4 linked regions of the Homo sapiens genome follow. The protein of the gene in region 1 interacts with the protein of each later gene in a biochemical or structural test. Each region holds a gene or a part of one and is shown in the gene's direction. Other genes may lie near its edges.

Evidence for each region.
Region 2: the proteins of PPP1CB (region 1) and PPP1R12A form a complex in vitro, tested with the Homo sapiens proteins (one study listed by BioGRID).
Region 3: the proteins of PPP1CB (region 1) and KIF23 form a complex in vitro, tested with the Homo sapiens proteins (one study listed by BioGRID).
Region 4: the proteins of PPP1CB (region 1) and PPP1R3A form a complex in vitro, tested with the Homo sapiens proteins (one study listed by BioGRID).

The regions. Positions count from the first base shown.
Region 1 is NC_000002.12:28,775,791-28,782,829, forward strand, and holds part of PPP1CB (serine/threonine-protein phosphatase PP1-beta catalytic subunit), read left to right. Parts: intron 1-1,060; coding exon 1,061-1,192; intron 1,193-3,018; coding exon 3,019-3,249; intron 3,250-5,947; coding exon 5,948-6,052; intron 6,053-7,039. UniProt on the Homo sapiens protein: Protein phosphatase that associates with over 200 regulatory proteins to form highly specific holoenzymes which dephosphorylate hundreds of biological targets.
Region 2 is NC_000012.12:79,925,059-79,932,097, reverse strand, and holds part of PPP1R12A (protein phosphatase 1 regulatory subunit 12A), read left to right. Parts: intron 1-7,039. UniProt on the Homo sapiens protein: Key regulator of protein phosphatase 1C (PPP1C). Mediates binding to myosin. As part of the PPP1C complex, involved in dephosphorylation of PLK1. Capable of inhibiting HIF1AN-dependent suppression of HIF1A activity.
Region 3 is NC_000015.10:69,445,310-69,448,925, forward strand, and holds the end of KIF23 (kinesin-like protein KIF23), read left to right. Parts: intron 1-699; coding exon 700-782; intron 783-973; coding exon 974-1,055; intron 1,056-1,561; coding exon 1,562-1,632; intron 1,633-2,482; coding exon 2,483-2,498; 3' UTR 2,499-3,116; downstream 3,117-3,616.
Region 4 is NC_000007.14:113,915,982-113,923,448, reverse strand, and holds the start of PPP1R3A (protein phosphatase 1 regulatory subunit 3A), read left to right. Parts: upstream 1-4,439; 5' UTR 4,440-4,452; coding exon 4,453-5,234; intron 5,235-7,467. UniProt on the Homo sapiens protein: Seems to act as a glycogen-targeting subunit for PP1. PP1 is essential for cell division, and participates in the regulation of glycogen metabolism, muscle contractility and protein synthesis.

The DNA.
Region 1 (7,039 bases):
GTTCAGTGGGGCAAATAAGGAACTCTTCTGTCTCTCCATGCAACATTCTGTTCCCCTTCATCCCACAAGTTACTGGAAACCATATTATCTTATGGCTCAGTAATGCAAAGATGCCTCACTCCATCTAAATAGCCTTTAGAGGTTTTAATATAATGATCTATTGGGAATGTAACGATAAGTTAATTTTTAATACATAGCTGATATCTTTTTTGTATTTCTTTTGATCAGAAAGTAGAGATAGGAGTTGCTAAAATTTTGGGGACTGCTGGTAACATTCCAAGAAAGTGTGTGAAGCTAAATCACCTACTGACAATTACTATTTAATCTCCCTTTCTTCATAGCACATTGTTCTTAATGAGGCTGTTTTGACATCCTACTAGATGCGAGATAAGCAGGCCAGACCTTAAAGGGTGCGGGCTCTGAAATGTTTTTTTGTGTGTGTTTTTTTTGTTGTTGTTTTTTTTCTGTTTGTTTGTTTTTTTTTTATTTGAGACGGAGTCTCGCTCTTGTTGCCCAGGCTGGAGTGCAATGGGGCGATCTCAGCTCACTGCAACCTCTGCCCCCGGGTTCAAGCGATTCTCCTAACTCAGCCTCCCAATTAGCTGGGATTACAGGCATGCGCCACCACACCTGGCTAATTTTGTATTTTTGGAGAGATGGGGTTTCTCCATGTTGATCAAGCTGGTTTTGAACTCCCGACCTCAGGTGATCCACCCACCTCAACCTCCCAAGGTGCTGGGATTACAGGCATGAGCCACCGTGCCCGGCCCTGAAATCTTTTAAGTCTCTTTGGCTACTAGGCCCCAGGTTGGTCACAGGACAGCAAAAAACAGGACTGCATTTCATCAACAGCAGACTTGAGGAGCATCATCAGGAACCAGTAACAATGAAAATAGAAGTCAGAGATCATAGAATAACATTATTTTAAACCATGGGACCAAATAGGGTAATTTGCTGCCTGTGTGACTTTTCTGATTTTTAAAGTATGGGCATGACTCTTTTTGAAAGATTATTATGAGTAAATTTTAGAAAACTGACTGTTTTATTTATCGTTTGTCAGTACGAGGATGTCGTCCAGGAAAGATTGTGCAGATGACTGAAGCAGAAGTTCGAGGCTTATGTATCAAGTCTCGGGAGATCTTTCTCAGCCAGCCTATTCTTTTGGAATTGGAAGCACCGCTGAAAATTTGTGGTATGTAAATGGGTAAAGTTGGAAACAACTCTTTTGAATCATGTTTTTCCTCCCATGTTTAAGATCTAGAGAAAACATTTTTTGAAATTTTTGTATAAAACAGATCAGTAGGCTTTACTAAATAAAAGTGTATAAAAATTGAAACTTATAAAAATGACAAGTTACAGACAAGATGAAAATACTTGCTATATATCAACAGATAAAAGGAGTTCTATTTATAATATATAAAGAGTTCTTATAAATAAGAGAAAGGCGATACAGTATAAAAATAACATAGGAAGAGGAAGGTCTTAGAAGAAATTCAAATGGCCAGTAAACATAAGGACGTCAGCTTCTTTTTTTAGTAATCAGTGATGTGCAATTTAAAGCAAGTCTCCAACTCTAGTCAGATTATAAAAAAATACCAAAGATTGATGTTTAGTGTTGTCAAGGATGTCACGAAAAGGGCATCATAGTACACTGGTTAGAAAAAAATAGGTGTATAATTTAGAGGGTCAATATGGCGATATCTGTGGTCTTCTAACTTTGATGTTATTTAAATTTGTTTTGAAGATTATACTACTTTATACCTTGTATTCTTTTAAGTTTTACAGTGACTTTTTTACAGTCCTTTGTACAGTGCCCAGCAAATAAGAGATACTCGCTAAGTAAATGTTTGTTTTTTGTTTGTTTGGTTGGTTTTTCTTTGAGACAGAGTTTCACTCTTGTTGCCCAGGCTGGAGTACAATGGCACAATCTTGGCTCACTGCAACCTCCACCTCCCGGGCTCAAGTGGTTCTCCTGCCTCAGACTCCTGAGTAGCTGGGATTACAGGTGTGAGCCACCACGTCTAGCTGACTTTTTGTATTTTTAGTAGAGACAGGGTTTCTCCATGTTGGCCAGGCTGGTTCTGAATTCCTGACCTCAGGTGATCCACCTGTCTTGGCCTCCCAAAATGCTGGGATTATAGGCATGAGCCACCGCAGCTGGCCAATAAATGTTTGTTGAATGGATCAGTTAACTTAGAATATCACACCTTCAAGTAAGAGGTAGTAGTTCAGAATTTGGGGGAACTAATCAATCCCCTGTATAAACTTAAGCAAATGTAGTTACTTAGAGGTGATCTTAAAATTATTAGAATTAAAGTATTCTTTGAAGGTGTTCTTTAAAATGTAATATAGAAATAACTTGAAGGTAATGGAAGTTATTTGTACTACATATTTCTAAAGGTTTACTATTTGTCTCCATATTTGGTGTTAAAAAGTGACGTAAGTTAAACTACCAGATAATAAAATTGTTTTAGTTACCTATTGTTGTATAATAAATCATTCCAAAACTTTGTGGCTTACAGCAACATTAATTTACCATCTCACAATTTCTGTGGGTCAGGAATTCAGGAACAGCTTAGTGGGTCCTCTGGCTCTGGGTCTCTCACAAGGCTCCAATTAAGGCGTGATCTCGGGCTGCAGTCATCTGAAGGTTGAACTGTGAAAGGATTCAGTTCCTTATAGACTGATGGACTAAGAGCCTCAGTTCCAAATGAGCTGTTGGTCAGAGGCCTCCCTCAGTTCTTTGCTACGTGGGATGCTTCATTAGACAGCTGGTTTCATCAGCGAGCATGGAAGAAGGTGAGAGAGTGCAAGCAAGATGAAAGTCACAGTCTTTTGTAACTTAATCTTGGAAGTGACAGCCCATCTCACTTTCGCTTATTAGAAGTAAGTCACCAAATATAGCCCATACTCAAGGGTAGGGGAGGATTACACAGGATGTGAACATTGGGAATCATTTCATAGAAGCTGCTTATAACAGTAACCAATTTTTCTAAAACTGACTCTTTCTCTTTTTAGGAGATATTCATGGACAATATACAGATTTACTGAGATTATTTGAATATGGAGGTTTCCCACCAGAAGCCAACTATCTTTTCTTAGGAGATTATGTGGACAGAGGAAAGCAGTCTTTGGAAACCATTTGTTTGCTATTGGCTTATAAAATCAAATATCCAGAGAACTTCTTTCTCTTAAGAGGAAACCATGAGTGTGCTAGCATCAATCGCATTTATGGATTCTATGATGAATGTAAGTGAAAATAAAGACTTAGAAAAGTAATTCATGGAAACATTGCCTAATAATTTTCTGGTTCAGAAGAGTTGCTTTGATTCAGAGTTTTTTCAAAATAAGATCTGTCAGGCATAGGCCAGGAAGAGGAACCTGAAACTGGGAAACATGTTACTAATTAAATTGGTTCCTTGAGATCTCCTTGGTCATATTTCAGATTGACTGCAGCTTACTTGGCTGAAGAGGCTCTTTTAAAATTAGTTTATCTAGTAAACTATCCAGGTGAAACAGAAGTCACTGTAGGCAGTGGCCCTTGGTTTTCTAGTGTCCATTAAGGTTTTAACTCTCGGCATTCTTGTGGTATGACAGCTTTTATTAGTCCTGTGTCACAAGAATTATTGAGAAGTTCTGTGAAACTATTTAAAAGTCAAAGTTTAATATTATTAGAATTTAAATCTATGTCTGTAAACCTTGAAAGATAAAGATACTGAATACTCTGGGGTATCCTTATTTTACTCTCTTTTTCATTAGTAGGAAATCAACGATTTGGTATTGTATGTTTCCAAGTGTTATTATTAAAATACCCTACTAGGTTCAAATATGGTCTTTTGGTTTTATTAGAATACGGGAGTAAGTATTTATTTGGTTAATTACTACTTAGAATCAATTATAATCTTCAAATTGAATTTTTTATTGCTGTCTTCCCTATTAGAATCTACTTTTGCTTTTTTTCAATCCTTAATTATGTTAGAGACCTATTCAAACTCATATCTCCTTGATTTATATAATGATTTGACAAAGTTTGAGGGTATGTTATATGTGCAGGCACTATTGTGAACACAGTGCGTGAAGCAATACACAATACAGATGATCTCTGTTCTCATGGAGCTTACATTTTTTTTCCCAAGTGTTTCTCCAGCATTGATTGGCCTTCCCTGTCCAGCCAAATAGCAGGTCATCAGCCTAGCTGGGACTGTATGTCCTTGTAGTGAAAAAAGGCTGTATCAGGCTTCCAATGCTTAATGAAAATAGCCTTTCTTTTTTCTTTTTTCTTTTCTTTTCTTTCTTTTTTTTTTTTTTTTTTTTTGAGACGGAGTCTCGCTCTTCTTGCCCAGGCTGGAGTGCAATGGCACGATCTCAGCTCACTGCAACCTCCGCCTCCCGGGTTCAAGCGATTCTCCTGCCTCAGCCTCCCGATTAGCTGGGATTACAGGCATGTACCACGTTCCCTGGCTAATTTTGTATATTTAGTAGTAGAGATGGGGTTTCTCTGTGTTGATCAGGCTGGTCTTGAACTCCCAACCTCAGGTGATCCACCCGCCTCGGCCTCCCAGAGTGCTGGGATTACAGGTGTGAGCCACGGCGCCCAGCCATGAGCTTACATTCTAATAGAAATGATTCTGTATTTGATTTTGTATTGTATTTTTATTTCTGAGATGTAGTGTGTGGTTTGAATTATTTAAATCAGACTAGCAGAGAGAAAGTGGGTTGGAGTACATCAAACTACAACATTCTTCCTAAAGCTACATCAGAAATGGAGGTATATTTTTAAAGGATAAAAGATAGGCAAGAATGTCTTTGGGGATAGAAATGACATCAAATGAAATAATGTATGGGAGAGCAACTTGTAAACAGTGCTTTGAGTTATGTACTTACTCATTAAGGGGCAGGTTGTGGCATAAAAGCACAGGAAGTTAGTACTTGTGTCTTTCATCCCTTCCCTAGCTTAGTAGTTGTACCTTATTACCAAATTCAGGAAAATCGAGTAACTCTAAAAAGGTGAACATACACTTGAGGTTGTCTTTGTCGTAGCTTTTTATGCTAGGCTACAGGAAAATTATAGCCTTTGTGCCTCTATTTATACTTGCTATAGTGCCAAGTTGTAATTCACACAAAAGAATACTAGTTAAACACTTGGAAATTTTCCTTCCTTGGCAATAAGTTTATACTGTGTTAATCAATGCATTAGTGTTAAAATGGACAGTTTCCAGAGGCACCTTTTCACTTCTGCTTGCTTATTTGGCTAGGTATTTAACTAGTCCACACACTGAACGGAAAAAAATGAACTAAGAGCCTATTAGACTGTTTAAAAATTGCTATATTATACTGATCTTAAAAGACAAAAATTGTTTGATGTATTTCATAAAACACCTAGCACAATCTTTGGGATTTTTTAAGTGTTAAATTTGATTAGGTTTATTTTATTTGTCAGAAATTCTATGTATTTATGATGTACAACATGATGTTTTGAAGTATATATACATTGCAGAATGGTTAAATCCCGCTGATTTAACATATGCATTACCTCAAAAAGTTAGCATTTTGGGAGAAAACAACACTTAAAATTTACTCTTAGCATTTTACAAAGATACAATATAGTGTTAACTGTAGTCACTGTTATACAATCGATCTTCTGTATTTATTCCTACTACCCAACTGATACTTTGTATTCTTTGACCAACATCTTCCCATCCCACCCCTACCCCCAGCACAATCTTTGAAGTCTTGGTAACTTTACTGAAGGTATTGAATGTTTATTGTAGTTGTTGCCTTTTTGAAAGTACGTAAATAACATCTTTGCATTGTAGAAAAAGTTCTTCTTTATAGATAAACATGAAGAAATGAAGAAAATTGAAATCATTCATAATCCTGCGGCTTTGAGATAACTGATGAGAACAGTTTTAGATTTTTTAATTTATTCTATCTGTTCTTTTTACAGGCAAACGAAGATTTAATATTAAATTGTGGAAGACCTTCACTGATTGTTTTAACTGTCTGCCTATAGCAGCCATTGTGGATGAGAAGATCTTCTGTTGTCATGGAGGTAGACTAGTAAATTTGCCTTACAGATTTTTTTTTTCTTCTATTATTCGGAAAATACCTATAATAATCAAGAGGCTGTGGGAAAACAAAGCAGTGCTTGTATGAAAACTCAAGTGATTAAAACTGTTTTAAACATGGCTAAACCTCTTTTAAAAATTAGAAATTTATTTATAAATGAAAACGTAATGCTTCTTTAAATACAGTTTCACATATAAGGAGTGTAACTAGAGTTGTTTGAGAAAGTCTCCTTTGCCTCAAGTTTTAACAGAAAGACACCCCTGCTATTTATTAGTAAAAATGAGAGGATATCTTCCTGCCTATATTGAAATCTTTCATCAGAATCCAAATAAAATTGAGTTTCATATTCACATATATCAAGAATTCTAGGCTTCATATAATATATTTGCTTTAGTATTAACAATAAAATAATAAAATAATCTTTGGCAGATTGGTAGGTTACTCTGTATGGCTTATGAAATAAGCTTGAAGTTTTTTGAAAGTTTATTTGAAAAATTAATGTATATGTCTAACACCTAGCTAGTAGATAGTGTATGATCTGACCATCTTGAAGAGTTAAAAACCTGTTGCTAAGATACATTTATGAAACAGATAATTGAGTAATAAAAGGTATTTAATATGTCAGAACTTATTAAGACACTATGAGAAGTCAGGAGGAGGAAAGACTGGGTACATGTGTGTATGGAGGCATGGGTTTTAGAGGATAAATAGGCTTTGGAGAAGTTAAAAGGACTTGAGACACTCTTTGTTGTCTAGTTTAGGGAATGTGTAAGAACTGGCCTGACTAGAAGGTCAAGTACATGCTGGGAAATGATGGAATCAGATTATGGAGATTTGACTATTGAGCAACGGAGTTTGTTGAGTGATTTAATAACCGTATTGGGTTTTTGTACAGGGAAGTAATTTAATGGAAATAGTGTAAGAAAATTAGTTTTTCATCAATATACGGGAAGAATTAAAGTGGAAAAAC
Region 2 (7,039 bases), on another chromosome or scaffold:
ATTTACTTTCTGGTTTTGATCAAGTGTTCTAAATTTCATTGTCAAGAGAAAAGTTTTAGGAACATCACAACCCACAAATATGCTTTTGAAAATCGAATATTTTGCTTTTACTTTAAAGAGCTTATATTTAAAGGTTTATTAATTTGTTGAATGTGCTACCTCATTAGAAGTTATAAAAGATATCCAGTCTTCAGCTGTTCTTTTTGTATAGAAATGTGTCCTCTGTATAGAAGAAAAAGCAGCGTTTCTTGTCAAATTTCCTATCTTAGTCTCCAGAGTAGCCTTTCTCCCCCACCCACTCTACCCAGGACCTGACCCCCAAAGCTACAAAACAGCACAAAGTTAACCATAGATACAAATTTCTGGTTTTTCTAGAACCGAGGTCTAGAGTAGAATTTCATTATTACCAATGGGGCAATAATCAGCTTCTGATTTTATAGCTACCTGGTAGAGTTTTACAGTATGTGATTATATCTCTATTTTAGCATATTTTGTAAAGATTTAAGGAGATTAATAAAGTTATATATAGAATGCCTTATTGCTGATTCTTACTGATACTGGTGTGCATAAAATACAGGGCTGAGATTTTTCTCCAGCAGTTTTGAGTTTAGCCTGTTGATTTTAGCCTTAAAATCTTTTCTTTTTCCTCTGTGCCAGTGACTTCCAAGTCAGTTTACAGTTCCCTCATTTCTGCAAAGCTCCAAGCCTCATTTCCATTTTTTGGGGTTATGTATTGATTTGAAATGAAATATTAAATGTATTGTAATTTTATATTTAATAATGTCTTTTAAGTAGTAATATAGTAAATACAAGTTCACCCCCTTTGCCATAGAATGGCAACTACTGTATTCACGTTAACCTTTGTGATTTCTTCAAAGGATTTCTTATTGTTCAAATATAGATTTTCATAGTTGCAATTCAGTATTATAATTTTACGTTTATCCGTTAACATTAGAGATACTTATCTTTAGACTTTACCAGCATCCTTTTTAACTAATTATTTTAAAAGTATTATTAATTTGGTGGTAAGACAATTTTACATCGTCAGGAATTTCTTTAAATTCAACCTAAAACAGGTCTATCTTTCTTCATCAAGTCTACTCTTCTCATTGATGTTCCTGTTTCTGTTAATGATGTATTAATCTTTAGAATCAAGTTAAACATTTTAGTTATTGTTTACTCATTCCCCTTGTCTATGCATAATCCAGTCTGTCTTCTAGCTCAGTCTTTTCTTTACAATTACCTTGGCATCAGTTCTTTTCTTTGCCACTTTTTACTGGCAACCTAGTTCATACCTTTATTATTTTATTTTATTTTATTTTTTTGAGATGGAGTTTTGCTCTTGTTGCCCAGGCTGGAGTGCAATGGCGCTATCTTGGCTCACTGAAACCTCCACCTCCCGGATTCGAGCGATTCTCCTGGCTCAGCTTCCCAAGTAGCTGGGATTACAGACGTGTGCCACCATGCCCAGCTAATTTTGTATTTTTAGTAGAGATGCGGTTTCTCTATGTTGATCAGACTGGTCTCGAACTCCTGACCTCAGGTGATCCACCTGCCTCGGCCTCCCAAAGTGCTGGGATTACAGGCGTGAGCCACCGCACCTAGCCTTATTTTTATCCCTAGAGTATAGTAATAGCTTAATTGTTTTTCCTGCCTCTATTCTCTCCCTTATTTAATCTAGCATGCATATTGCTGTCATATTAATCTTTGAACAGTATCATTTTGATGGTGTTATTCCTCTCTCTAAATTTGGATATAGTACATTTTATCATTTAGCTTATGGTTGATACATCTCCATTGTGTTGTATCCTTTATAGAAATTGGTTAACTTGCTTACGTTTCAACTAGATCTTTACATTTTTTATTTCCATGCCTTTAGCCATGCCTTTTATCCTCTCTCCCTCGTTTGCCAATTAAAATTCTAGTCATTGTTCAAGATTCACATTCTCTTTTCTGGGGTGTTCACTGTACCTTATATTCTGCCTCTCCTGCAATAAAAACACTTTTTACTGAATAGTGTTTGTGTTTGTCTTCCCTTGTAGCCTCTGAGGACCTAATCTTCCACAATTTTTGTATTTCCAGAGCCTAGCACATAGTAGATGCTCACTAAAGGTTTATTGAATTTTTATCTTTTTACCTCATCAATAGGAAGTTTTAGAGTTATTTTTATGTTGTGAGATATATTTTTGAAACCTTCGCATCAGATACTTAGCGTATTGTTCTTGCACATAATGGAATTTGTGTGATTATGAAACAAATTAAAAACTTTGTTGTAGATTTCAATATATTTTAATATCTTGAGATTTTAAAAAAATCTTTTTTTTTTTTTGAGATGGAGTCTCATTCTGTCACCCAGGCTGGAGTGCAGTGGTGTAATCTTGGCTTACTGCAAACTCCGCCGCCCAGGTTCAAGTGATTCTCCTGCCACAGCCTCCCAAGTAGCTGGGATTACGGGTGCGTGGCACCATGCCTGGCTAATTTTTTTTGTATTTTTGGTAGAGATGGGGTTTCACCATGTTGGCCAGGCTCATTTCGAACTCCTGACCTCAAGTGATCCGCCCGTCTTGGCCTCCCAAAGTGCTAGGATTACAGGTGTGAGCCACTGTGGCCGGCCTAAAAAATTCTTAATATCGACCTCCTTTCTATTAAATTTTAAAGCAGTCTAGATATTGGTTAAGTGGTAGAAAAATATTATATCCAGTTGAGTCACTAATTAATTACTCACTTTGTAAGAGTCTGAGCTAGATCCTCTAGAGCGGGGGTTCACAAACGCTGGGCCGTGGACAGGTCGATCCACGACCTGTGAGGAACAAGGCCACACAGCAGGAGGTGAGCGACACACTGGCAAGCTAGCATTACTGCCTGAAATCCACCTCTTGTCAGATCAGCAGCGGCATTAGATTCCCATAGGAGTGCGGACCCTATTGTGAACTGCGCTTCTGAGGTATCTAGGTTGTGTGCTCTTTATGAGCATCTAATTCCTGATGATGATGTGAGGTAGAACAGTTTCATCCGGCCCCACTCCCCAACCCACATCTGTGGAAAAATTGTCATTCACAAAACTAGTTCCTGATGCCAAGGTTGGGTACCACTTCTAGAGGAATACAAAGTAGAATTAGTTCCATGTTCTATGCTATTAGAATTTTAAAATAGTTTTTCTTTTACTTTCCAAAACAGACAGACTTACAGATAGGTTTAATATGAAATCCTTTTGCTTTTAAAATACAAATTTGATCTACTTCTAAGGGAGCCATTTTAAGCATCTTTGTAAAATATGTGATCCTCTCGTCAGTAAAGGGAATACTTTTGTGTAGTCTTCTTAAGATGTGAAGTGTAAAAGAGACTGGAAGCAATTAATTTTGAGTTGCTTGTTAGCAAATAGTTTGATTACTATGTAAAATCTGAATTAAGAGTTTATAGTTTGTAACTGTTTACCCTTTTTTTGATGGAGAATGTTAAGATCTTGGAAGAACCTACTGGATAACTTTTAAAGAGCATTAAAATTTGTGTCTAAAAGAATGTGCAGTGTAAAATATTTCTCTGCATAGTTTTCTTTTTAGAAAAGCTGTAACACTTTATGCTCATGCCTTTCAAAAGTTTTTATTGAAATCATCCTAAATCCATTTTTAAAAACCTACCTAAACAAACAAATAAAACCCTCCCAACCCCAAACTGGCCCCTCACTTCCTACAAATAAGTGGGCAACCCTAGCCATATATGGGGTGTGCTGGTAGGGCACCAGTGCCCACACTGCTGCTGTTCTAATGCTTTTTCTGTAGTTGCTGCCTCTGTGCTTCCTGGCAACACTTTTGTGGTCTGACTTTGAGGTGTCATAACCAAGACCATCTTTCATGTGCCTCAGCTACAGTATGATTGCAAGCTGTGACTGAGCATTTTCTATAGCCAGGTAGAAACACTGGATGGAATAGAGGAAGTGTTTTTCATCATCCATTTGTTATTACCACATTTAAAAATTACAGTTCACATAAGAAAAGTGTTTTAAAAATCTTATTAGATGATTTTTAAAAGAAAACTATTTAAAAACCTTTTAATAGGGGGAGGCATAAAACGTTGTTTTGTTACTACCATAACATGTTACTTCTTGACACTATATGAAGTTGCTATTTTCATTGCCTCTGCCTGCAAAAAATTGCCATCTTTTACTCCACCCTTCTTTTGAAAGTTTGTGGGGCTCCACAATAAGGTTGAGAAGATGATGAGGTATTGGCATTTTGGTATACCTCTTTGAAAGGTTGAAGAACTCCAACAATTATAAGTTTATTCTCAGTTGGAGTCAGATATGTAGTAGCCATGACTTAATCAGTGTTTTATTGAGGAGCAGTGCTTTTCCAAACAATAGTTTAATTTTCACAACATGCTTTTTCACTTGCTCAAAGTTAACAAGAAAATAAATGGCAGAGCTGGAATTCTTATGCAGGTCTGTTTGATGCCGAAACTCAAACTTTACCCTATGCCAGGTATCTTCTTTGAAGTCTGAAGAAGAAAATATTCTTAAATCTTTTCATCATTATGGTGGTGTTTAGTAATTGGAGGTTTCTCTGTAAATTAGCTGAAAATCAAGTGAAACACACATATAATTTTTTTCTTCATCCACATTTGTTTTAGCTAGCCCATACTTTTAAGACCTTTCTATGGTAATTGAAGTGCAGTAGTACTGTATCTAAATTAATCTCAGAATTCGAAATTGTCCTAAATTTTAGGAAGTGCCAAGATTATTTTTGACTTACCATTATGTGCAGAATATATCAGCAGCAACAAGAAACACTCCTTTTTTCAGGACATAGAATTTAATTTTTAACTACCTTTATTTTTCTTTACCCTAATAGCAATTTATATCGTTTCAGTTGTTGGGTGTGTGTGTGGGTGTGGTGTGTGTATGTGTGTTTTGAGACAGGGTGACAGACTCTGTCACCATGGCTGGAGTGCAGTGGCATGAACATAGTTCACTGTAGCCTTCCTGGGCTCAAGTGATCCTCCCACCTCAGCCTCCCGATCAGCTGGGAATACAGGCATGTGCCACCACTTCCAGCTAATTTTTTTTTTTCTTTGACAGAGTCTCCCCGTGTTGCCCAAGCTAGTCTCAAACTTCTGGGCCCAAGTGATCCTCCCACCTCAGCCTCCCAAAGTGCTGGGATTACAGGCGTGAGCCACTGCACTTAGCCTGTTTTAGTTTTTTTTAATCATTTACAGTAAATTTTTTATACATACGTACATGTACATATTTGATTCTTTTTAGAGACAAATTGTAGGAAACTTCATACCATGGATACTGGGGGTGGGGGGGAAGAAGTCCCTTATATACCCTTAAGGTAGGGACTTTGATTCTTTTTTTCTTTAAATCTCCTTTTGTATCGGCATTTTGTTTTAGTAGGTACACAATAAATATTTAATGATTAAAAAAAATTGGACACAATGTAAACTAATATTTTGAAGAGCAGAATTCATAGAATATTAAATAATTGGGTAAGTGTAACACACTGACAAACTTTTAAAATGTCCTAATAAAAAAGCTTATATCAACCACTTACTTTTATAATACTTACAATGTAAAGGTAGCCATTATTACAATCAAAACATTTATTAGGTGGCTGGGTATGGTGGCTCACGCCTGTAGTCCTAGCACTTTGGGAGGCCTAGGCAGGCGGATCACCTGAGCTCAGGAATTTGAGATCAACCTGGCCAACATGGCAAAACCCCATCTCTACTAAAAATACAAAATAAAAATTAGCCAGGCATGGTGGCGCATGCCTGTAATCCCAGCTACTCAGGAGGCTGAGGCACGAGAATCGCCTGAACCCAAGAGGCAGAGGTTGGAGTGAACTGAGATCATGCCTCTTCACTCCAGCCTGGGCGACAGAGCGAGATTCTGTCTTAAAGAAAAAAATTATTGGGATGTTAGATTTATTTTTGAAATGAGATCTATTACTGATTATCAATAGACGCTTCAGTTTATGTAACTTAGTTTAAAAATTCTTTAAACAAATCCTTGAGTGTTCATTTAGAAAAGTAATCTCTAGGCTGGATGCAGTGGCTCACACCTGTAATCCCAGCACTTTGAGAAGCCAAGGCAAGAGACTTGATCCCAGAAGTTCAAGACCAGCCTGGGCAATATAGGGAGACGGTGTCTCTACCAATAAAGAGAAAAGAAAAGAAAGAAAAAGAAAAGAAATCTCTAGCATGGTAATATTAGAAATAATGCATATTTTCTGTTATTTTACTGATACTTTTTTTTTCCAAATAACATTTTTACTATGGCTCCCTCTATGTCAGTATTTTCTGACCTTATTAGTGTTTTGGTTGTTTATCTTTGCATTGTTATGCTGGCTAACCATAAAAAGACACGCTTGAGTTCTGTGTTACTGCCCTAAGTGTGCTTGCTGCTCAACTCAAATGCTCTTTCATGGGAGGAGACATTCCACATTGTCATGTGTTGTATAGGCATTTCTGAAATGACATTCAGTAGAAACCATGGAAAGAAGTGAAAGCATTCCTCAGCTGTCACTTTTTTAGTAGTCTATTTAAATGTTATGTATATTAAGTGAGATATTCTGCAGAGAGAGCTTCACTTAATAAAAAGCTTTACTTTAACTTGATGATTTAACTCACATTTGAGCTGAAATTACTATTTTCTTAGTTTAACATGACCTCTAACAATAAAATCATAAGATTGTACAAAGCTCATGTCATTTTCTTGAATACTGCATAGTGCAGAGGAGAATACATTTTGTGAGATGTCACTTGGCACCCTCTTAAAGATTAATAACCATGTGGGAAAGTATATTTTCATGGACTGTTACACACACACACACACACACGTACACGTATGCACTCAACCTTTACTTGTAATAAACATCCCAAATTATATATATTTTATTAGCCTTCAAAATTGTTTTAGATGGTTATAAACTTATTTGAATATTTATATTCTTGCATGGAACACTTCTAGAGCTTTTCTGTTGGAGTTTCAGCTCCAGAACATTTTTTTAAAATATCCTCAGTGTTGAGAGTTTTTTTTTCT
Region 3 (3,616 bases), on another chromosome or scaffold:
TATTTAGTTTTAACCACTACTTAAAGTAATCTAAGCAAAGAATTCCTATTGCTCTCCATCAGTTCAAGATAAAAAAACAAAAACAAAACAAAACGAAACCTATGTTAAAATTTGACCCGTCAAAATTACTCAGTATTGAGCTGCCTAAAGCCGTTTTCCAGAAAGAGACTTGCCTGACTATAGAAGAATTCCCCTTTGATCATAGGGTCAGTGAATAATCAGGAAAGTAAAAGATAAGACCAAAAAAAAAAAAAGCTTTTTATTTCAATTTCAATTTAGAGTTTTTGTTCTTATTATAATTAGCTACAAATAAGACTATACTGTCATTTGAATATGGGCAACAGGGGGCACTCAGAGAAGAAAGTACCATGCCTTAGAGCGTGTAGAAACTTCCAGCAAATTTCTTGATCCTTAGTGCAGTTTAGTTTTTAAATTACAGATGGAGCAAAAGGAATATTTTTTTCTGCAATTATGAATGTTACTGATTACATTGAATTGGACTTCTTTTATTTGTGAGAGATATGTACTCAAATTTCTAAATTATTTTGATAGTACGTACTCAGCAAGTACCAAGTACCATCTGATTTTGTGGATGGGAATTTCTATAAAATAGAATCATGAGAACAGTTTGAAATATATATGTGTGTTTTTCGTTTGGGTGTATCAATGTGTAACAGTGACCTTTTCTTTTGGCTTTAGGGTGATATTTATAAAACAAGGGGTGGTGGACAATCTGTTCAGTTTACTGATATTGAGACTTTAAAGCAAGAATCACCAAATGGGTAAGTAACCATCAAAAATCTCTGTATAAAAGTTGGTCATTTTCTTAGCTGCTCATTTTGGAGGAACAGAATAGCCTGTGAAATGTATCATTAATTCTCCAAAGGGATGTAGATAGTATTCCCCTACTTCTAATATTTTTCCTCTTCTTAGATGGAAAAATAATTGTTGCATCATGTTTCCCCTTTTTCAGTAGTCGAAAACGAAGATCTTCCACAGTAGCACCTGCCCAACCAGATGGTGCAGAGTCTGAATGGACCGATGTAGAAACAAGGGTAGGGGAAAAATTAAATATTTGTCTGCCTACTAAAATTAGGTTTGTCATGTTTTAAACCCCACAGCTCTAGATTTTTATGCTCTTTGAAAATGCTGAGGTATAATCTCACATTGCCAGTGCACCATGTAGGCCTATTCCTAGAATAACAAGAATCCACTTCATCAGGAACTCCCTTGCAAGTGTTATTCCTGAGGAGAATCTCTTGGAAAGAACATGGGAAGGTAGGGGTCAGGAGGCTAAGCTATGGCCTTAGCCACCAACTCTCTTTGCAAACTTATCTAAAATGAGATAAGTTACCTGGATGACCTAAAGACCTTTCTGGCTCACAACATTTGTGGCCTGTGCCAGAAATAAATTACGAGTGACTGGTGTTTTAACGTAAGAGTCTTTGCTGAACTAGAAAGCAATATTGCATTTCACCTAGGTGTGGAGCCTGCTAAATAACTGTGTTTTATAGACTATTGAGAGGAGCTGATCTTTTTCCTCTTGTCATTTTCCTCTCAGTGTTCTGTGGCTGTGGAGATGAGAGCAGGATCCCAGCTGGGACCTGGATATCAGCATCACGCACAACCCAAGTGAGTACTGACTGTAATTGGGGTCTTGCTGTGTGCTTTTTTCCTCCTCTGGTCTTTACATTATCACTCCTTCTACCAGCCATCCACTTATTCTTCAGAAGAAATATATGGTTTTGGTTTTCCCCTTGGACTATCTGGGCCTCCATGGGCAGACTGCAGTAGGCAGCTGGAATGCTGAGAGCCTCAGAAGGCTGGATAAGAGCAATCAGAGCTGCAAGGCAGGCGGTGGTGGAAGATTGGTGGCTCATGTTCATATTCTGCCAACGCTCATAAAGCTTTCTGAGGCTGAACTGAGAGTACCTCTAAGGAGGGAAGGCTAAAGGCTTAAGTTGGAGACTAGACAGCTTTGTGTAAATCATTGTTTCCTGACTTGCTTCTTGGTCTTGGTGTAGCAATAGGTGTTCACTAAAATAAATAACACTGAATGAAAGAATTTATAGTAGGGAAGGAATCATACCTTTTCTTCTTCTGTTAAACTTATACTCAGGAGTCTGACCCAGTCTTTTTCCATATTTTAATAAAATCCCTTCTTTACAAATACATACATATATGTATATCACATGTTATATACATATATGTATATAAAATGTTATATGTATATAACATTTTAAACATTTACATACCTTACTGAGCAATTTAGAAAATTGTTGCAGCAGGATAAAGATGGGAAATCCTTTCTAAATTTAATACTAAGATAAGCATATTTTATAAAAGTTGTTTGCTTTCTCAGAGGGACTTGAATTATCTCATCATAAAACAGCAGTTCTCAAAGGCCTCCTAAAGATTGATTTGCTATGAATGTGTTACTAATTGCAAAGTTCAACTCTAAGTGCTGGTTGTTATGTTTTAGGCGCAAAAAGCCATGAACTGACAGTCCCAGTACTGAAAGAACATTTTCATTTGTGTGGATGATTTCTCGAAAGCCATGCCAGAAGCAGTCTTCCAGGTCATCTTGTAGAACTCCAGCTTTGTTGAAAATCACGGACCTCAGCTACATCATACACTGACCCAGAGCAAAGCTTTCCCTATGGTTCCAAAGACAACTAGTATTCAACAAACCTTGTATAGTATATGTTTTGCCATATTTAATATTAATAGCAGAGGAAGACTCCTTTTTTCATCACTGTATGAATTTTTTATAATGTTTTTTTAAAATATATTTCATGTATACTTATAAACTAATTCACACAAGTGTTTGTCTTAGATGATTAAGGAAGACTATATCTAGATCATGTCTGATTTTTTATTGTGACTTCTCCAGCCCTGGTCTGAATTTCTTAAGGTTTTATAAACAAATGCTGCTATTTATTAGCTGCAAGAATGCACTTTAGAACTATTTGACAATTCAGACTTTCAAAATAAAGATGTAAATGACTGGCCAATAATAACCATTTTAGGAAGGTGTTTTGAATTCTGTATGTATATATTCACTTTCTGACATTTAGATATGCCAAAAGAATTAAAATCAAAAGCACTAAGAAATACATAGTTGTGTGATGGCTGTTCATTCAACACGTCCTCCCAGCACCTGGCACAGTGCCCTGCATTTACCTGGCACTCATTGTTTGCGGGATGAATTAAAAGAAAGCTCTAAAAAATACAAGATAATATGATGTTAAACGGACAATGCCTTTTTTTATGTGACAACCATAATTATCTACATATTAAGTATGACTTCTAGACATTTAAACAAAAAGCATAGTTTGGGGACAACATAAATTAGAAAAAATACTGTCGAAACCATGGTGAAATATCCCATTGCATGGGTGAACACACATTTTACTTGGATTTAATTTGGATTTCTTTTGAGGCTGAGCTTTTTTTTTTTTTGAGATGAGTTTCGCTCTTGTTGCCTAGGCTGGAGTGCAATGGCACGATTTTGGCTCACCGCAAACTCTGTCTCCTGGGTTCAGGCAATTCCTCTGCCTTAGCCTCCGAGTAGCTGGGATTACAGGCATGCGCCACTACGCCCAGCTAATTTTGT
Region 4 (7,467 bases), on another chromosome or scaffold:
TTGCTAAATGACCTTAAAGTTCTACCCAATTCTTGTTTTTTTTTTTGTAAAAGCATTTTATAGCCCCCACACACACTAAAAATAGCACATAGTACATATGTAGAGGGATAATAGCTACAATTGTTTTCATAACTAGAACTTAAGTCCCTGACTATGGCAGACAGACTAGGAGATCATGCATTTTTTTTTTTTTTTGACACCTAGTTTCACTTTGTCTCCAGGCTGGAGGGCAATGGCTCAATCTCGGCTCACTGCAACATCCGCCTCCTGGATTCAAGCAATTCTCCTGCCTCAGCCTCCCGAGTAGCTGGGACTACAGGTGCACACCACCATGCCCAGCTAATTTTTGTATTTTTGGTACAGACGGGGTTTCACCATGTTGGCCAGGATGGTCTCGATCTCTTGACCTTGTGATCCACCCGCCTTGGCCTCCCAAAGTGCTGGGATTACAGGCATGAGCCATTGCGCCCAGCCGGAGATCACGCATCTTAACCAAGTCTATATATCAGAATCACTTGTGAACCATCATCCTCTTGGAAAATCTTATTTGAACATCTCTCCCAGTGATTTTTGACATCTATCTCTGGTTTTAAAGACTACAGTTCTAGACTGTCTCTTGACAAAACGTTTCTTTGGGTTGCAAAAATCTATGCTAACATGGGAAACAAATGCAAAATCATAATTAATTTCAAAATAGATCATTTCTTTCCTACCCATTTGTGGATAAACACAATCTCTCTTATTTTTGATTCTCACTGGATCAGAGCTGATCAGACCTTAGATATTTAACTTTTTTTCTTGAACCCATGACAGTAGAAGATCAGGTAATAGAAACTCAGTTGGCATTGAGATACAGTATGTATAAATAAAGAGGAACACACATATGTATTTTAAGTTATATATGTATATATGTTATATACATATTTGCATATATTTCATACCTCATATCTTCTGTTTGCTCCTCCAAATCCACTTGCCACCCTTTCCACCATTTTCCTCCCTGTTTTCTGCTGCGGGAGACTGACCTGAATGAACTATAATAGTTCCCATGCCCTCTGGCCAATAGGTAGCTCTGGTAGGACATCATAAAAAGGGAGAAGAATGAATTCAGTTTATTATGCTCCCGGATCACTCCTGGCAAAGTCGTCTTCAACTGGCTGTGTCCTTTGACCAGGTCTCCAGTTGGTAAGCTCTTTATGGCACGCTTTGCTTTCAAGTTCTGATAAGTGTTCCCTTCCCTTATCCCTTGAAGGATGGTAAAAGCTCTGATGCAATTGACCCCAGTTTGTCACACTAGTTCTTGTGGCTTCTCTGCCTTTACACTTTATAAATAGACCCTTGTAAATAAATCCTCCTGAAATTATCTTATTTGAGCATGCCATCTATTTCCTATTTACTGGGTTCCTGACTGATACTGTTTTTTATGTTAATGGTGCCTTTGAGAATATTTGATTAATACCAAAAATTATGGAATGCATGGAGACTTGAGCTTTAGTTTGTAAAAAAAAAAAAAAAAAAAAAAAAGAAGGAAAGAAAAAGCTTTAATTCTTCTAAAAACAGTATACCTTAGCAGCTGAAGAAGAGTGTGATAAATTGTGTTGAAATTGAGGTAGTGGTGGATATGAGAAAATGGGACATTGGTCTGATCTGTGATATGGAAATAAAGCAAGGAAATGTGAATTTTAACTGAATGCAAACACCAAGTCACAAGGCTGAGGCTGTTAGTATTTCTTTTCATGCTCCAGAGACACTTGATCTATAATATTGCATTCATCTGGGGGCAGCTCATTAACAGAAAAATACAGGCAAGCTGGAAGGAGTTCATAGAGGAGTAACAAAATGGTAAAAAGCACTGGAGGATTGACATGTGGGAAGAGATTAAAAAGATGAAATCACTCTGCTTTAGCTAAGTGGTGACTAAGGGGGAACATGTCAACTGTCTACAATTATGTGAAGGTTATAAATTCCAAAAGAAAGGCAGTGATTACTACAAATCAAGGTAGTGCTCTGTGTAAAGAGACACATTAACAAGGGAAAAGTTTAGATCAAATAACAGGACCATTTTCTAATGTAGAGCTATATTATGTCTTATAAAGCTAAGTGTTACACACTATAGCCTTTGAAAAAGACAAAAATGAAACAAATTACAAATCATTTCTTAATGATATATATGAATTCTCTGTAGCTAGATAGATTACATATCTATCCATCTATCTGTTGATATACCTTAGAAATCAGCCTTTTACAAACATATATCGGAATTGAAATAGTGACTGGTGCTATTACTATAGGTTTTGTGCTAGACATTTAACAAGAATCTTGTTTAATTTTAAACATTGTACTTTGACAATTAAGGCAACTGTGGGTTAGAACATCTGAGTAACATTCGGAAGGTCATCCAGCTAGTAAGCAGCAGAGCCAGGAAATGGACCCAGGGGTCTTCATTTCCATTCCTTTGCTAACTAACTCCTGGATAGTTAAAATATTTCAGTACATTATTATATCTTAAATTTTCATTATCCCATTATTTACATGGCTATATGAACTATTTTACTAATTTCCATAAAGCATTTTGTTGCTGATTTCCTTGACTACATAGCAATGTATTTCAGGTACCTTGAAATATAGCTACTTGTAGTCATCAAATCTGAAAGGCACAGACATTTCCGCAGCCATTACCCATTCTTGAGCAATCCATGTGGTCACCACCCATTCTAGCTATGTGGATGAGATAAAGCTCAAATAATTTCATTTCTTTATCCTTCTAGACACTAGTCACTTATAATTTTAGAAAATAATTTCTCCATCCACTACTTTATGCAATTCAAATTACCTAATAAGTTATACCATATTAATGAGGTTTTCATTTGAAAGAAATTATGCTATTGGGCTCTTTATAAAAAGAAAAACTAATCACCTTTCACACTTCGTATATTTTTTCAGTTTAATTAATAGATATTTTGAAAGAAAACCATGCTCATGTATAATATTTCAAACAGTACAGCAGACCATAAAGTAAAATGAATAGAGCCCCCATTCCTCTGCCATCTTTAAATTCTGTGGTTAGAAGTAAATACTGCTAACATTGTCTTTTGTATCCTTTCAGGAGTTTTCTATGTACATATCTGTACACATTTTCTTTTTTATCACTTAGCCATTTATCTTGGTTATCTTTCCATATTAGCACATAAAGTGCTACTTTATCCTTCTAAAACATTCTATTGTATGGGTTATTTATCCAATGCTCTTTCGAGAGGGACATTTAACAGGTTTGTAGAGACTGTTAAACGCACAATTCTGTTATGAACATAGATCTCTATTTATCTTTGTATACTTTCCCATACTGACAGAGCAAATTTCTAGCTGGGGCATTTCTCGGTCAAATTGTGTGCAGTTAAATTTTTATAGGTTTTTACCAAAATGACCATCCCCCAACTTGGGTTTTATGACATAAAAAAAACGTGACAGTTTAAGCAGGCTGTTCATACTTTAAAACTCATATTGAATTTCAAGGTGTGATGGTATCAACTTCTGCTTTGTGGGCATAAAATGGCCATTTGCAAAAGAACATTTTATTCTACGTAGATGTATTAGTCCTGGATCAGGCTTACCTTTGCCCACTTATATTTGTAAATCAATAACATGTCTTATCTGTATTTTCCCATGGCTTAATTAAAATAAATGTACTAATGTTTAAAATAATGAATTTGATTACTTCTTTGTTCTAGGCTTTTGCTTGGGTTATTTCTTCTACCTGGACAATCTGCCTTGCTCCAACCTTGCATGTCTAAATTCCACCTACCCTTCATGCTTTATTTAAAATGATACCTTCCCCATCTGAATCATGTTTCCTTCCTCAGAACTTTCAGCACCTCTATTTAACCCTTTTGTAATAAAGCTATACATTTATAAATCCCTGAAAATGATAGCTGTCATTATTAGTAGGCTCTGGATCTCTTCAGTTCTATAAATGTTCTTATCTTTCCCTGTTTGCACTTACCTGCTCCATGGATTAATTTAGTCCAAACTACATATTCAGTATTGTGATACTACTTTTATTTTATTTAAAAAAAATCCACATTTTCATTTTTAACATCAACTAATTAAAATAATATTTTTATCCTAAAGTTCCAGGATTTCCAATACAGCAGAACATGATTTAAAAATATCTGTTTGGAACTTAGCTCATAAACAAATACAGCTTTAAAAACTGCCAGTTAAATCTGAAACATACTGGTGGGAGTAGCATGGATGCTATCATATGCAAGGCCTTTAGGGGGAGGCTAGCAGGGTTGCAGGCTAGCATAGTTGACACGCCATTGGACCTATTTATAGAGCTGAGTTCTTTTTGCAATGTCAACTGTAACATTATACCTATTTTAAGCCTCAGTATCTCAAATGTCAGCCTCTACTAGTCGTACAGTTCTCTCTTATTTGATATCAGAGAGCCCAATGGAGCCTTCTGAAGTACCTAGTCAGATTAGCAAAGATAATTTTTTAGAAGTTCCTAATTTATCTGACTCTCTTTGTGAAGATGAAGAAGTTACTTTCCAACCTGGTTTCTCCCCTCAACCAAGTAGACGAGGTTCTGATTCTTCTGAAGACATATACCTGGATACCCCATCTTCAGGTACTAGAAGAGTTTCATTTGCTGATTCCTTTGGATTCAATCTTGTGTCTGTTAAAGAATTTGATTGCTGGGAATTACCGAGTGCTTCAACCACTTTTGACTTAGGGACGGACATTTTCCACACAGAAGAATATGTTTTAGCCCCACTGTTTGACTTGCCTTCTTCAAAAGAAGATCTTATGCAACAACTCCAAATACAGAAAGCAATACTGGAGTCAACTGAGTCTCTTCTTGGGTCTACAAGTATCAAGGGTATTATTCGAGTTTTGAATGTTTCTTTTGAGAAGTTAGTATATGTAAGAATGTCTTTAGATGACTGGCAGACACATTATGACATTTTAGCAGAATATGTTCCTAATTCATGTGATGGTGAAACTGACCAGTTCTCCTTTAAGATTGTATTGGTTCCTCCTTATCAAAAAGATGGCAGTAAAGTTGAGTTTTGTATACGTTATGAAACTTCTGTTGGTACATTTTGGTCAAATAATAATGGCACAAATTATACATTCATTTGTCAAAAGAAAGAACAAGAGCCGGAGCCTGTAAAACCATGGAAAGAAGTTCCTAACAGACAAATAAAAGGCTGCTTAAAGGTAAAATCAAGGTGAGGATATATCTTACATATTTTATTATTCACAATCTTAAAGTTTTTATGTCATTCTTTATTTCATGTGTTGTAAGAAAGTGACTCTATTTAAAAATATACTGCTTGCTATGTAAAAAACAATGGTGCCAGGCTTTAACAAGGTCAAAGCTATTCAAATAATAGCACTGTGTAACCCTTTCTACAAATGTGAGAAAAAATATGGCTGTAATGCAATAGGTTGGGAGAGAAGTGCACTGTGTATATTACTTGCCTAATGAGTTATAAATTATTCCTGCTCAAACCATGAAATCTAGATTATTCACATATAAAATTATTTACTTTGACATTTAAAGTACTTTTATTTTCAGTCGTTTTTAAATGTCTATGCTTTCCTTTGAAACAGTTTTGATTAACATAAAACTATATTTCAATATGTATCTAGTTCTCAGAAATTTGTAAACTTCTCCCAAAAGCTGCAAAGAACTTCTTCATAACTGTTTTGAGTTATACAGGGATGTTTGAAGTGATACATGTTAATTTAAATTATAAAAGAAATGACCTTAATGATTAACAGAAAGACATAAGTATATCAGTGATATATGAGTTACACACAAAATTTCATTAATTATAACCAAGAATAACATTATGGAACACAAATTAGTATAATTTAGTAAAAGTCAATGGAGCAGAACAAAAAATGACCCAAATATAAATAGGGATATTCAGCTATATAGATTAGAGATTTGGGATGTGACCCCTCATTAGTAACCTTACTCTCTTGTTAATGTGAAAAATAAGAAAAACTGGCATTCAGCTGTCTCGATAGTACATAGCTGGCTAATTTCTGTGACACTAGGTAAGTAGAGAAAACATTCAGGAGAAGTGAGACCCCTTCTGCTCCTCAGTATCCCAGAGGGAAAGTCTACATTGCTCCAGCCACAGGCAAATGTTTGATCATCCTCTGAGTGGTCCATCTTAACTGTCCCTAAACCCAAGGATTTTGGTAACTGTACCAGAAATAGTGTAATGTAGGAAATAGGAAATATAGGAAATAGGAAAGGGAACTGTTTTGGAATCAAGACACCCAGATTTAATTCTCTAAGGGGAATTTAATACAAAGCATAAGATACGATATTGGGAAATTTTTTTAAAAATTGTGCTTTAAACGATAAATAATAACTACTAAATGCATTGTTCCAATGTATTAATAAACTAAATGCAGTATAGATGGAAGCAATTCAAACATATATATTATGTTTATTTTCATTTTCCTTTAAAGTCATCTGAAATATTGGCTTAATCAACTTTGTGAATTAGGCCAACTTTCTTGGTCTAAATCAAACTTTCTTTGATTTTAACTGATGCTGTTAGGAAAGAGAGTATAATAATCTCTACATAGGCTAAAATAATAATTTAGATGTTTATGAAATTACTCTAACACATTAGCTACACTAACAAAATAAGTTCAACATTATTTAGCAAACTAATTTATATGCATAATATATACATATTAAATACTTTAGAAATGAGATAAGCATTAGTGAATATCTGTTAAACACACTGCAACTTGCTCTATATGTTAGAGAAACCAAAATTTAGAAAAGGCGCAGCATTATTGTCTAAAAGCTCATAAAAGAGGCAGTGTTGAACTCAGCGGATTTTTCTGCAATTTAATGCAGTTTTAAAATTCAAGCAATACCTGCTGAACTGTGGTTTGGATAGGGGATTCCTTTGATTCCTTTGATATGCCAAACTTGACTGATACCAAGGCAAAGACTAGCCAACTGATAGGCCTCATCTTCTACCTTGGTCATAATATTTTTGGAACTTCTCCTAGTTGAAGATATGTAGAACTATATGTATCCACACATACATTTGTATTCAGAACAGTAATCATTGGATTCACAGCGGACACCATTCAAGTTTTAATATTGCTTTGGGGAAAAACCTGAGAAGAACTAAACCACAAAATGGTCTGAAGGCCTGTAAAGTTTCCTAATGAGTTATAAAAATGGAAAAAATCTCTCTCCCTCAAAACCACAAATACATTTTCTGCACTTCTGTAACTTAAAAATGACCAACATAATTCGAACCACATTTTGAAAAAAGCATTTGCCTCTGGAGGAGGCATTTTGTGCTGAATTTCAGTCCAACATGAATTTTTACATCTGATTTATATACCACTCAAAATGGAGTGTATAAAGGAAATCCTGACAGATCCTTAGAACAGCATGTGCCATAATAGAATATT